Linked DNA regions of Homo sapiens: region 2 is linked to region 1. Evidence: fine-mapped expression QTL. A gene starts in region 1. The other region holds a variant in brackets. All regions are shown on one strand. Distances are between the middles of the regions. Region 1 holds the start of CAP2 (cyclase associated actin cytoskeleton regulatory protein 2). Region 2 overlaps CAP2 (cyclase associated actin cytoskeleton regulatory protein 2).

Region 1 (5,381 bases):
GGATACTAACAATCTAGTACTTTTTCCCCTAGTTTTCTGTTTATTTTCTTTAACAATTTTATTGAGATGTAATTCACATACCACACAATTCACCCATTAAAGGTGTACAACTCAATGGTTTTTAGTATATTCACAGATACGTGCGACTATCACTATAGTCGATTAGAGGATATTTTCATGTTTCACCTCAAAAAGAAACCCTGTGACCTTTATCTATCACTTCCCTACTCAACCCACCTCCAGCCCCTTCAGCCCTAAGCAACAAAAAATCTACTTTCTAGCTGTATACATTTCCTTGGTCTGGACATTTTCAAATGAATAGATCATACAGTACGTGATATTTTGACTGGCTTCTTTCACTTAGCATAATGTTTTCAAGATTCATCGATGTTGTAGCATGTATCAGTACTCCACTCTTTTTTATGGCCAAATAATATCTCGCTGTATGGATATACCACCTTTTATTTATCCACTCATCAACTGATAGTCATTTGGTTTGTTTCCACCTCTTGGTTATTATAAATGGTGTTGCTGTCAACATCTGTGTACAGGTTTTTTTGTGAGCATATGTTTTAATTTCTCTTGGACATATATTTACAATGGAATTGCTAGGTCATATGGTAACTTTATGTTTAATTTGAAGAACTGCCAAACTTTTCCAAAGTGAGGGCACCATCTTATATTCCCATCGGTGGTGTACAAAGGTTCCAATTCCTCCACATCCTCACCAGTATTTGTTATTATCTGACTTTTTGATTATAGCCATGCTAGTGAGTATAAAGTGGTATCCCATCGTGGTTTTGATTTGCATTTCTCTGATGAATAATGATGTTGAGTATCTTTTCATGGGTTTATTGGCCATTTGTATATCTTCTTTGGAGATAGCTATTCAGATCCTTTGCCCATTTTTAAATTGGATTATTTTTCTTTTTATTATTGAGTTGTAAGAACTCTTTATATGTTGTGGATACAAGACCCTTATCAGATACATGATTCCTAAATATTTCCTCCCATTCTATGAGCTATCTTTTCACAACTATCTAGTTCTTAAGCCCTAGTTTATAAACCTAGTGATGGGTTCACAGGTGTTCAGTTGAACATAATGTTCATAACTCACCTAGACTTAGCGTATTATTTTTACATATAAAATGTTACATAATAAATTAAAAACAAAACAAAACCTCATGAATAAAGATGTTAGGAAATATTCAAAACAAAACAAAACTCCATAATGCTCAAAATAAGTTAATGCTTTTCTGGAGGGTATTTAACTTAACTGCCAAGGTATAACAGGCACTCAAGAGAATGTGGCCCATTAATCCTTTCAATAGGCTCCTCTCCAGATTCTAGCACAGAATCAATCAGTGGGAGTAGCAAACTACTACTAGAAGGACAAATCCATTCCCTTCTCTCTTACTTTTGTGTTTTCTGCTCCTCCCTCAAGCTAAGAATAGTTTTTACATTTTTTAATGCCTGGAAAAAAACAGAAGAATATTTTGTTACTGGTGAAAAGTTCAAGGTTCAATGTCTGTAAATAAAGTAAAACACAAACATACCATTCCTTTAGGTATTGTCTTTAGCTGCTTTCAAACTATAACTGTGGAACTGAGTAGTTGCTAAGGAGACCATATGGCCTGCAAAACCTACATGTTTACTATCTAGCTCTTAACTCAAAGGTTTACCAAACCCTACCCTGTATCAACAAATTAAATTACTTCTCACATTAACGATGGGGAACAAAAACTTACTTCCTACTAGCAAAGACCACCTTGATAATCACCTTCCTGATTTCTCATAGTCAACTTCTTTTTCTCTTTATCCTTAAGAAGTATTTATATGACACTTTGATTGTAATGTTATTAAGAATTTTTTAAATTTCGGGATTCATGGAGAAGTCGCCTTTCCTTGCAAAATATGCAGTATATTCAAGAAGTCATGCTCCATCTACACTTAAGGTACTGAATTAACTATTTCACACACTTTTATTGTCTATCCATTACATGCTGTGAGCCAAATACTGTTTGGTGCCGTAGGAACTACCAAACAACCCATCCTTGCTTTCAAGAGGCTTGCAGTCTAATTAGACTCTAGTAACTATAAATCCAATTCTCTAAAGTTCACTCTACCGTTGTAATTTTACACTAAGTGGGCTTAGATAGTTTACCAAGAATTCTAAGGAACATAGCTTCAATGAAATCTACAGAAGCAGTAAGGAAATAGGAGTACTCAGTAAACTACAGTGCTCAAGTCCCAGAAGCTTCTGCATTTCCATAACTATAAAACCAAAGGTCCTAGATGTTTTTACCAAGTGTTCATCTCCACTCTGGCTGTTTGGACCTAGTCCCGGTTCAACTTCCTAAATGCAGTCACCCATACATACTCATTTTTAAGAATGCATCCATTCAAATATTGCTACAACTTGCAGCGAACACCACTCTGATGAGAATAAAGAAAAGGCCATCTGCAGGTTGATTTTTGGCCCTAAAAGTGATGATACGGCGGCTACTTCCACGAACACCCCTCTACCCAAAGCAGTCAGAGAGCCAGCGGCGGGTGCCGTTTTTCCGAGCCGTTCCCCCAGTCTCAGTTGCCTCTGCATTTTTTAGAAGTGACTCATCGCCTCAAGTCAGGTTCTGCAGAGGGGAAGCCAGGTCTGTTTCTTTCCAGCACTTTCTGATCGAGGTGGCTCTGGTCAGAGCCGGCGCAATGACTCCCACCCCCACCCCCCTGGAAGACTCACAGCCCGGTGGACGAGACCCCCCAAAGTTAGAGCGGCCGGGCGGGCGGCGGCGCTGGGGTGGGGAGGCCGCGGCCGCCCGCCAACCCCGGGCAGCTCCTGCCCGCACCCCGCCTTCCGAGCGGCCAGGACGCCGGAGCTGGGGAGGCGGGGGCAGGGCGCGCCGCTCCGCTGACCCAGATGGGAGTCCGCCCGCGCCCGCGCCCCGCGCCCGGGTCGCCGCGCCCCGGCCCCCGCGCCCGCGCCGCCTTTATTCCCCTCGCGCTGCTGCCACAGCCGCAGCGTCCCGGCCGCTTCCCTACCCCACCCATCGGGCTCAACTTGCCAGCGCCCGCCGCCAGGCGCCCCCCGCACCTGCACCCCGACCCCTCCCCGCCTCGCCGGGCCCCGACCGCTGCAGGATTACCTGCTTCGCTGCCCTGGGGTCCCGTCCTCGGCAATGCAAATCCGTGGTCGGCCACTCGTACCCTCCTCCCGCGGCCCTCCCCTTCTCCTCCCCTCTCCCTCCTCCCAGCTGAATAGGAGCCGGTGTCAGTCACGCTGCTCCAGGGGAGAGTCGCCGGCAGCTTCCGGAGCTCCAAATACAGACGAGCTGAGGGGGGAGAGGGAGAGCAAAGCCACGCGGGTGGGGAGTGGAAATAAAGGGGAGCAGAGAGGAGAAGGGGGTGGAGGAAAGGAGGGGCAGATGGGCCGTGGGAGAAAAGACAGGGAGATGGGGAAGGCAGAGCCAGGGAACGCCAGCCTGCCTGCCAAGCGCCAGGCTATGCGAGAAATGGATTCAGTGCATGAGGCAGTATTGCAAAGAAGTCTGGAAAGATCCGGAGGCTCCTGGCTGAAGGAGGCACAGATAGGTTGGATACCCGAAGATCTGTGCAGAGAAATGGGTAATGGATCCTTAGGAATCAAGAGACGGCATGTGTGTCCCCAGACCCAATATGAGGATAAAGGCTCTGGGAGGAGAAGGAGCTAGACAGCTAATGCTTTAGCGAGACATCAAGACTGAGTGCACTCATAGTGCGTGTGATGACATTTTTAAAAAGTATTTTATAAACAGCAACTTTTTAAATGTCCTGATTATTTAAAAATTAAAGTAACCAAACCCACTTGGCTTCTTAAGATGTGCAGCATATTTGTGGCCACTTCCCCTTTATATATTGATTATAATTGCAAAATTGGAGGCTTTTCTCTTAACGTCATTAGAAGGAAAGCATTGATTTTCAATTTTCATCAAAGTTTATTTCAGTCTAAAAAAGTGACTTGAAGCTCTTTATTGAATGAATGCCAGGAAAATAATTGCAGAAAAGAGAAAAAAAGAGGGGAAATGTAACTGATATCTTCTGAAAGTAAAATCTCCAAACAATAAATATGAGATGAATTTCTTAAAGGCCAATATTCTCTGTCGATGTTAAAATTGCACATAAGTTGGTTCTGTACATTATAAGGCTTATTCTGACCCCATAGGTCAGCACTTATACAAAGGTCATTCCAATTACACATTGCTCTCTGCTGACAGTAATGAGGTGCAGTGAGTCTTTGCTTCCCTTTGTCTGGAAAGAAGGGAAACAAAATGACATAAACATTGATCAATGAGTGCGTACATTGCATAAAGCCAGAGCCAGCACCCTCCCTATCCTGTGGATACCTTGCATATGGCGGGCATTCAATATGTTTGTATTAAATAATGAATGAATGGATGGATGGATGAAGTATGTATGCATTTAGAACATTTGTGTTCCAGAAATGCAGAAAAAATATATATCCATAAGAATCAATGTGTGCAGGATCACAGGGAAGTTCCAAGCATCCATTCATATGACTTTTTTTTAGCACTAACTTCAACAAACATTAGCACAGTATTTCCTTAGCTACATCTGTTTTTTATTGGAGTATAAAGTATTATGGAGTCTAAGAGTGGATGAGCCACAAATCCTGTCTTTAGGTTGATAATATAGTAGGAAGATGTGAAGAGTATAAAAATAACCACAGTTCTAGGAATGTCGTAAAAAACATTCTAAAAGAAGTATGAACAAATTTCCATGGATGTTCAGAAGAAAGGAAGGTTGCTTCTAGACTGGGGATTAGAGAACACTTTCTGATGGACATGAAAGTTGAGTCTTCATGCGGAAATGAGACATTAAGAGTGGATTGTGGAGGAAAAACCCTCAAGATGATGGGCAGGGACAAAAGTGGAGAGGTAATAAAGGATGGCATGTATGAAGGACAGTCTGTGAGTTTAGCTGGATTGGAGGGCTGTGGAAGCCAGGTATGGAAGGAAGGTTAGGCCCTGGCTGGTAGAGGCCTTCAATCTCAGCCTAAAATGTTTGAAGCCTAAGTAGTAGGCACTGGGGGACTATTGACCATTTTTGAGCATAATCATGATAGCAATGGTTAGTTTGGTGGTGGTATATAGGACTGGAAAGAGATAGGAGGCAGGGAAATCCACTAAGAAATAACTAGCTAGTCTGGAGGGGAAAGTAACGAGCCTCAACTTGAAGCCTGAACTCTTCCCTTAACTAGCCCTGTCATAGCATCTGTCTGCTATATGATGTCTCCCCAAAAGGGCTAGCCCCCAGTGAACACTTCTTCCTCACAACTCTTTGATACTTATTGTCCATATTTTCCAATTGGACCTATACATTCCAGG
Region 2 (5,381 bases), 130 kb before region 1:
AAGGCAGAGGTTGCAGTGAGCCAAGATCATGCCACCACTGAACTCCAGCCTGGGTGACAAGAGCGAAACTCCAACTCAAAAAAAAAAAAAAAAAGAAAAGAAAAGAAAAGAAATACTCTAAAATATTTATAGATTCTTATTAAGGTATGAGGCAGGCTTGACTGGGGCTGGGCAGGACTTGAATGCCAAACCAGACTGAAGACTCGCTGCAATGGGGGAAAGAGGTGAAAGCACCTCTCCAGAAGACATGCCCACCAGGGCCATGTCAGTTGACCACTGCCATGGCAACACCTGGAAGTTACTAACTACCCCTTTCCATGGCAATGACCTGGAAGTTATCACCTCTTTTCTAGAACTTTCTGAATAACTTCCCCCTTAATTTGCCTATAATTAAAAGTGAATATAAATATAATGGCAGAATGGTCCCTGAGCTGCTACTCTGGGCACAGTTCCTATGGTACCCCTGCTGCTGCTGCACATTGCTGCTGCCATAGAAGCTGCTGTCTAACACCGCTGGCTCACCCTTGAATTCTCGCCTGGGCAAAGCCAAGAACCCTCCTGGCTAAGCCCCACTTTTGGGGTTCACCTTCCCTGCATCATTATCAACTGACACTAAAACTCAAAGGTATTTATGAGATAATAAAAACAGTTCTAAATAGAACACATTTACTTAGAGCTTCACAGTATAGCTCTTAATGACTGTGTGTGAAATTGGAGATATTTGACTATTTTTCACCTATTCTATTGAAGATATAGCACAGATTAAAATGAAAATTCACAAATACCCCAAATTTCAAAAGGCAGAAATTGAAGCCATAAGAAATAATCCATCAAATTAGACAACTGGTCCAGAAATAATCAAGAGATCATTACAGGAAAACTTCTTACTCCTTTTTTTTTTTTTTTTTTTTTTGAGACAGAGTCTTTCTCTGTCACCAGGCTGGAGTGCAGTGGCGCGATCTCAGCTCACTGCAACCTCTGCCTCCTGGGTTCAAGCCATTCTCTCCTGCCTCAGCCTCCTGAGTAGCTGGGACTACAGGCATGCGTCACCACGCCCAGCTAATTTTTGTATTTTTAGTAGAGACGGGGTTTCATCATGTTGGCCAGGATGGTCTTGATCTCTTGACCTTGTGATCCAACCGCCTCAACCTCCCAAAGTACTTTGATTACAAAAACATTTTACTCCTTAATTCTGTAAAACTGCATCTGCCTCCAGTCCTCCAGAAACTGCTCTTGGAAGGTTACTAATAACATGGTAAACATGGCTGATGACAGCCTTTGTCCAATCCTTATTCACCACAGCTTACTACAGTTGGTATCACTGGCCAGCCTGTTTTCCCTATAGCTTTGAGACTCTCCATTCTTCTAGTTCTCCTATCTCTTGTCTCCTTGATTAGTTTACCCCATTCTTGAAATAATAGTGTTTTCCAAGGTTTTATCCTTGATCTCACTCTCTCTTTTTTAACCATCTTATTTATTTGCCGGTCTTTTCTAGGTAGATGACTCCCAACACGTACATCGGGGTCTCCCCCTTCAGTGAATTCCAGATCTAAATCTCACCTCCTGACTCCACGTGTTTGGATGTCTCTCCTATACCTCCCGCACCTCAAACACAATGCAGTGAAACCCCAGGTGAAGATTTTTCTTCCTTCTCTACCAGCTCCTCCTTGCGATTTCCCTATTTTTATATTACCACGATTCTCTCCCAGACTTCCAGATTGGAAATTTTGTGTTAGATTTTATGTCCCTTGTCCTCCAACTCAGTGGCTACTCCATCTCTTTGCATTGCCATTGTCACACTCTAGGTCACATACTAACTACCTCACCCTCTAGCCATCCACTAAAGTCTCCCAACACGTATCAGGGCCTCTAATCTCTTCCCCTCTCCATCTATCTTATGCAATTCCTAAGTCATTATTCACAGTGTGTTGCTTTCTGCTTAAGAACCCATGCAGGCTGGGTACGGTGGCTCACACCTGTAATCCCAGCACTTTGGGAGGCCAAGGCGAGTGGATCACCTGAGGTATCAGCCAGGCATGGTGGCATATGGCTGTAGTACCGGCTACTCTGGAGGCTGAGGCAGGAGAATCACCTGAACCCAGAATGCGGAGGTTGCAATGAGCCGAGATCGTGCCACTGCACTCCAGCCTGGCGACAGAGTGAGACTCTGTCTCAAAAACAAAAAACAAACAACAAAACCTATGGCAAAGGAAACAACTTCAAACACTACATAGCCCCACCTTCTTAGCATAATGCATAAGGATTTCACCATCTGGCCCCAACCTGCCTTTCTGGCCTCACCTTTTGCCACATTCAGCTCTGCAAAACCACCAGCCTTTCTCTCAAAGTACATTGTTCATGTCTTAC[G/A]TACATATGCTGAATTCTCTGCCCCAAAACTGCCCTTCCCTTTACTGTTTGCCTAGGGAACTCCTGCTCACCGTCAAGATCCAAATCAAGTGTCAGCCCTTTTGTGGCTCTTCGTGCCCACCCAGGAAGGAGTCTAATTCACAAGGCTTATTTTCCAACCTAGCTTTGTATTGCTGTTATTTATTTATGCATCATAATAAAAACCCTGCTGCTTCACGGAAGAACTGTAGTATAAATATAATGCCTGGTGTGTGCTTGGTACATGGTAAGTAGCCAATAAGTAGTTACCAAGGAAGTGAATTACTAAATAAATGAACGTGTAAAAGTGAATGATTTCCCTATAACAACTCCTTTGGCCCAACTTAAATACAGTAGAGCAGTGCTTTTCGAACTTCACTATGCATATAAATTACCTGGGAATCCTGTTGAAAAGTAGGTTGTGATTTGGGAGGGCTGAGGTGGGGCCTGAGAGCCTGAGATTTCTTTTTTTTTCTTTCCTTTTTGTCTTTTTTGAGACAGAGTCTTGCTCTGTCGCCCAGGCTAGAGTCCCGTGGTGCAATGCAGGCTGACTGCAACCTCCACCTCCCAGGTTCAAGCGATTCTCCTGCCTCAGCCTCCTGAGTAGCTGGGATTACAGGTCTGCACCACCACGCCCAGCTAATTTTTGTATTTTTAGTAGAGACAGGTTTTCACCATGTTGGCAACACTGGTCTCGAACTCCTGACCTTAGGTGATCTACCCGCCTCAGCCTCCCAAAGTGCTGGGATTACAGGCTTGAGGTACCGCGCCCAATCAAGGGGCCTGAGCTTTCTAACAAGTGCCCAGGTTGCTGTTGGCCCCAGAACCATGCTGCACTACAGGATGGGCCGTATCTTCCACGTGGTCCTGGTCTATGCAAGCGTCATGCCTTGTGTGGATTCCCTAGCACACTGCTCCCCCTGTTCTATCATGGTGCATTGCTCATCTTCTTCAGCTAGAATGCGCGTTTCCGTGGACAGGAATCGTGTCCACAATGCCATCTACCCATCTTTGTATTCTTAGCCCCTTGCCCAGAACTCAGTGCATAGTAGATGCTTAAGCCATATTGGTTTAATTATGTGGTCTCTGTCAGGCTGAACTCACAGCCACTTCCAACCTAACTTTACTATCTACCTGTGCATTTGAGGCTTCTTTGTTAGTTGATGACACTTCTTTTTTTTTTCTGAGACGGAGTCTCGCTCTGTGGCCCAGGCTGGAGTGCAGTGGTGCCATCTTGGCTCACTGCAAGCTCCGCCTCCCAGGTTCATGCCATTCTCCTGCCTCAGCCTCCCGGTAGCTGGGACTACAGGCACCCGCCACCTTGTGCGGCTAATTTTTTTTTTTGTATTTTTAGTAGAGACAGGGTTTTACCGTGTTAGCCAGGATGGTCTCGATCTCCTGACCTCATGATCTGCCCGCCTCGGCCTCTCAAAATGCCGGGATTACAGGCATGAGCCACTGCGCCCAGCCAGTTGATGACACTTCTAACCCCTGTTGAGCAATGTGGAACCCTTCCATAAGAGAATAAGAGTAACTGGCCACCCAGAGCCCCAGAAGGGACCTAGAAGCCCAAACTGAACTAAGTAGAACGACGCAGCTGTGGTCAGGTACACTGGCCAGGGCCACTCCGTGGGAAGAGCCATAGAGAACAGTGAGCTTTGTCATCAGACAACCAACACATCATCTGAGGCGCTGCCCATTCACTTTGATTAATACCCCTAAGGTGTGGGTTTGGTACAAGTTCTAAATGAAAATTTGGATATAAAAGCTTAAGAACAGTTTTCTCTTGTAAATAGCAAGAGGAAGGTAAAGAGGCCTGAAGACTTGAAAACGTACAAGGCATACATATTCATAGTTAATGACATGCCACAGAGTCTACATTATTTATAATAAGTCGGGATACCCTCTGGCTGAGTTTTAATTTGATCAAAAGTAAGCTATTAAACTTTCACTTTGTTAACAGACATTTGGCCTTTACACCAAGAAACAGAAAGAAAAGAAATATCTACCTGGAGGAAAAGAAGTGATCCTAAAGCATTTTGCTTTGGGAAAAATGAAACGCCACCTTGTCTATAATTGTAACCACCACCAACGACTTGCATTTTCCTGGAGGTTCAGGAGAGGCTAGGATGGATGATAGTGTATAGGATGGATTTTTAAAACCCGTATTATTAAGAATTACATTGGCTGGGTGCAGCTTATCATCCTACCATGCTTATCATCCTAGCACTTAGGGAGGCCAAGGCAGGCGGATCACTTGAGCCCAGGAGTTTGAGACCAGCCTGGGCAACGTGGTGAAATCACGTCTCTACAAAAAAAATATAAAAATTAGCCAGGCATGTTGGTGCACGCCTGTAGCCTCAGCTACTTAGGAGGCTGAGGCAGGAGGACTGCTTGAGTTCAGGAGGTCAAGGCTGCAGTGAGCTGCAATCGTGCCACTGTACTCCAGCCTGGGCATCAGAGCGAAACTCTGTATCAAAAAAACAAAACAAAACAAAAAACAGTAACAACAAAAAAAATAGAACTACATCACTATTACATAAGACTGTATATACATTCATCCATGTGCAGTTTTATTCTACTCTACAAATAATTATATCTTATTTGATCCCAAAGCTAAAGTAATTCAGAAATATAGGAAAGGACAGAAATATGTCAACAAGTTTAACAACCGAAAGTTAATAAAATAATCACATTTCTCCTAATCATAGAATTCTTTACATGACCTTTATCTGAGCAGAATTTTCTGAACAGATAATAGTCTGTTTTTAGAACAGGATAATAGTCTGCATTTATAGATTCACAGAAATGAAGAGTTTTGTAGGAAAAAAGTCAATTATTTCAATAATTATAAGGGTAAAGACTAGGCCTTAGTCTTTCGACTTTAGTTATCTGATTTGAAGGAAATGCCAAGGAATATTACAGCTCTGACCAACTGCGAGGGATCCTAAGTAACAGTGCTGCTAATGGGTTTGTGCCAAAAGATCAATTTGTTC

What was found. PIP is the estimated chance that this variant, and not a neighbour inherited with it, causes the effect.
Region 2: its variant is fine-mapped to the expression of CAP2 in nasal epithelium (TOPMed, PIP above 0.99).

Annotation. Positions count from the first base shown.
Region 1 is chr6:17,391,509-17,396,889 of GRCh38, reverse strand. It overlaps CAP2 (cyclase associated actin cytoskeleton regulatory protein 2), which reads right to left and starts at 3,295. Exons shown (of 13, transcript NM_006366.3): 1 at 3,144-3,295.
Region 2 is chr6:17,519,607-17,524,987 of GRCh38, reverse strand. The region is part of intron 7 of CAP2 (cyclase associated actin cytoskeleton regulatory protein 2); the gene reads right to left. Among named protein-coding and RNA genes, the nearest start is that of FAM8A1, 78 kb to the left of the region's middle. The variant G/A (reference allele first, on the strand shown) is at 2,368.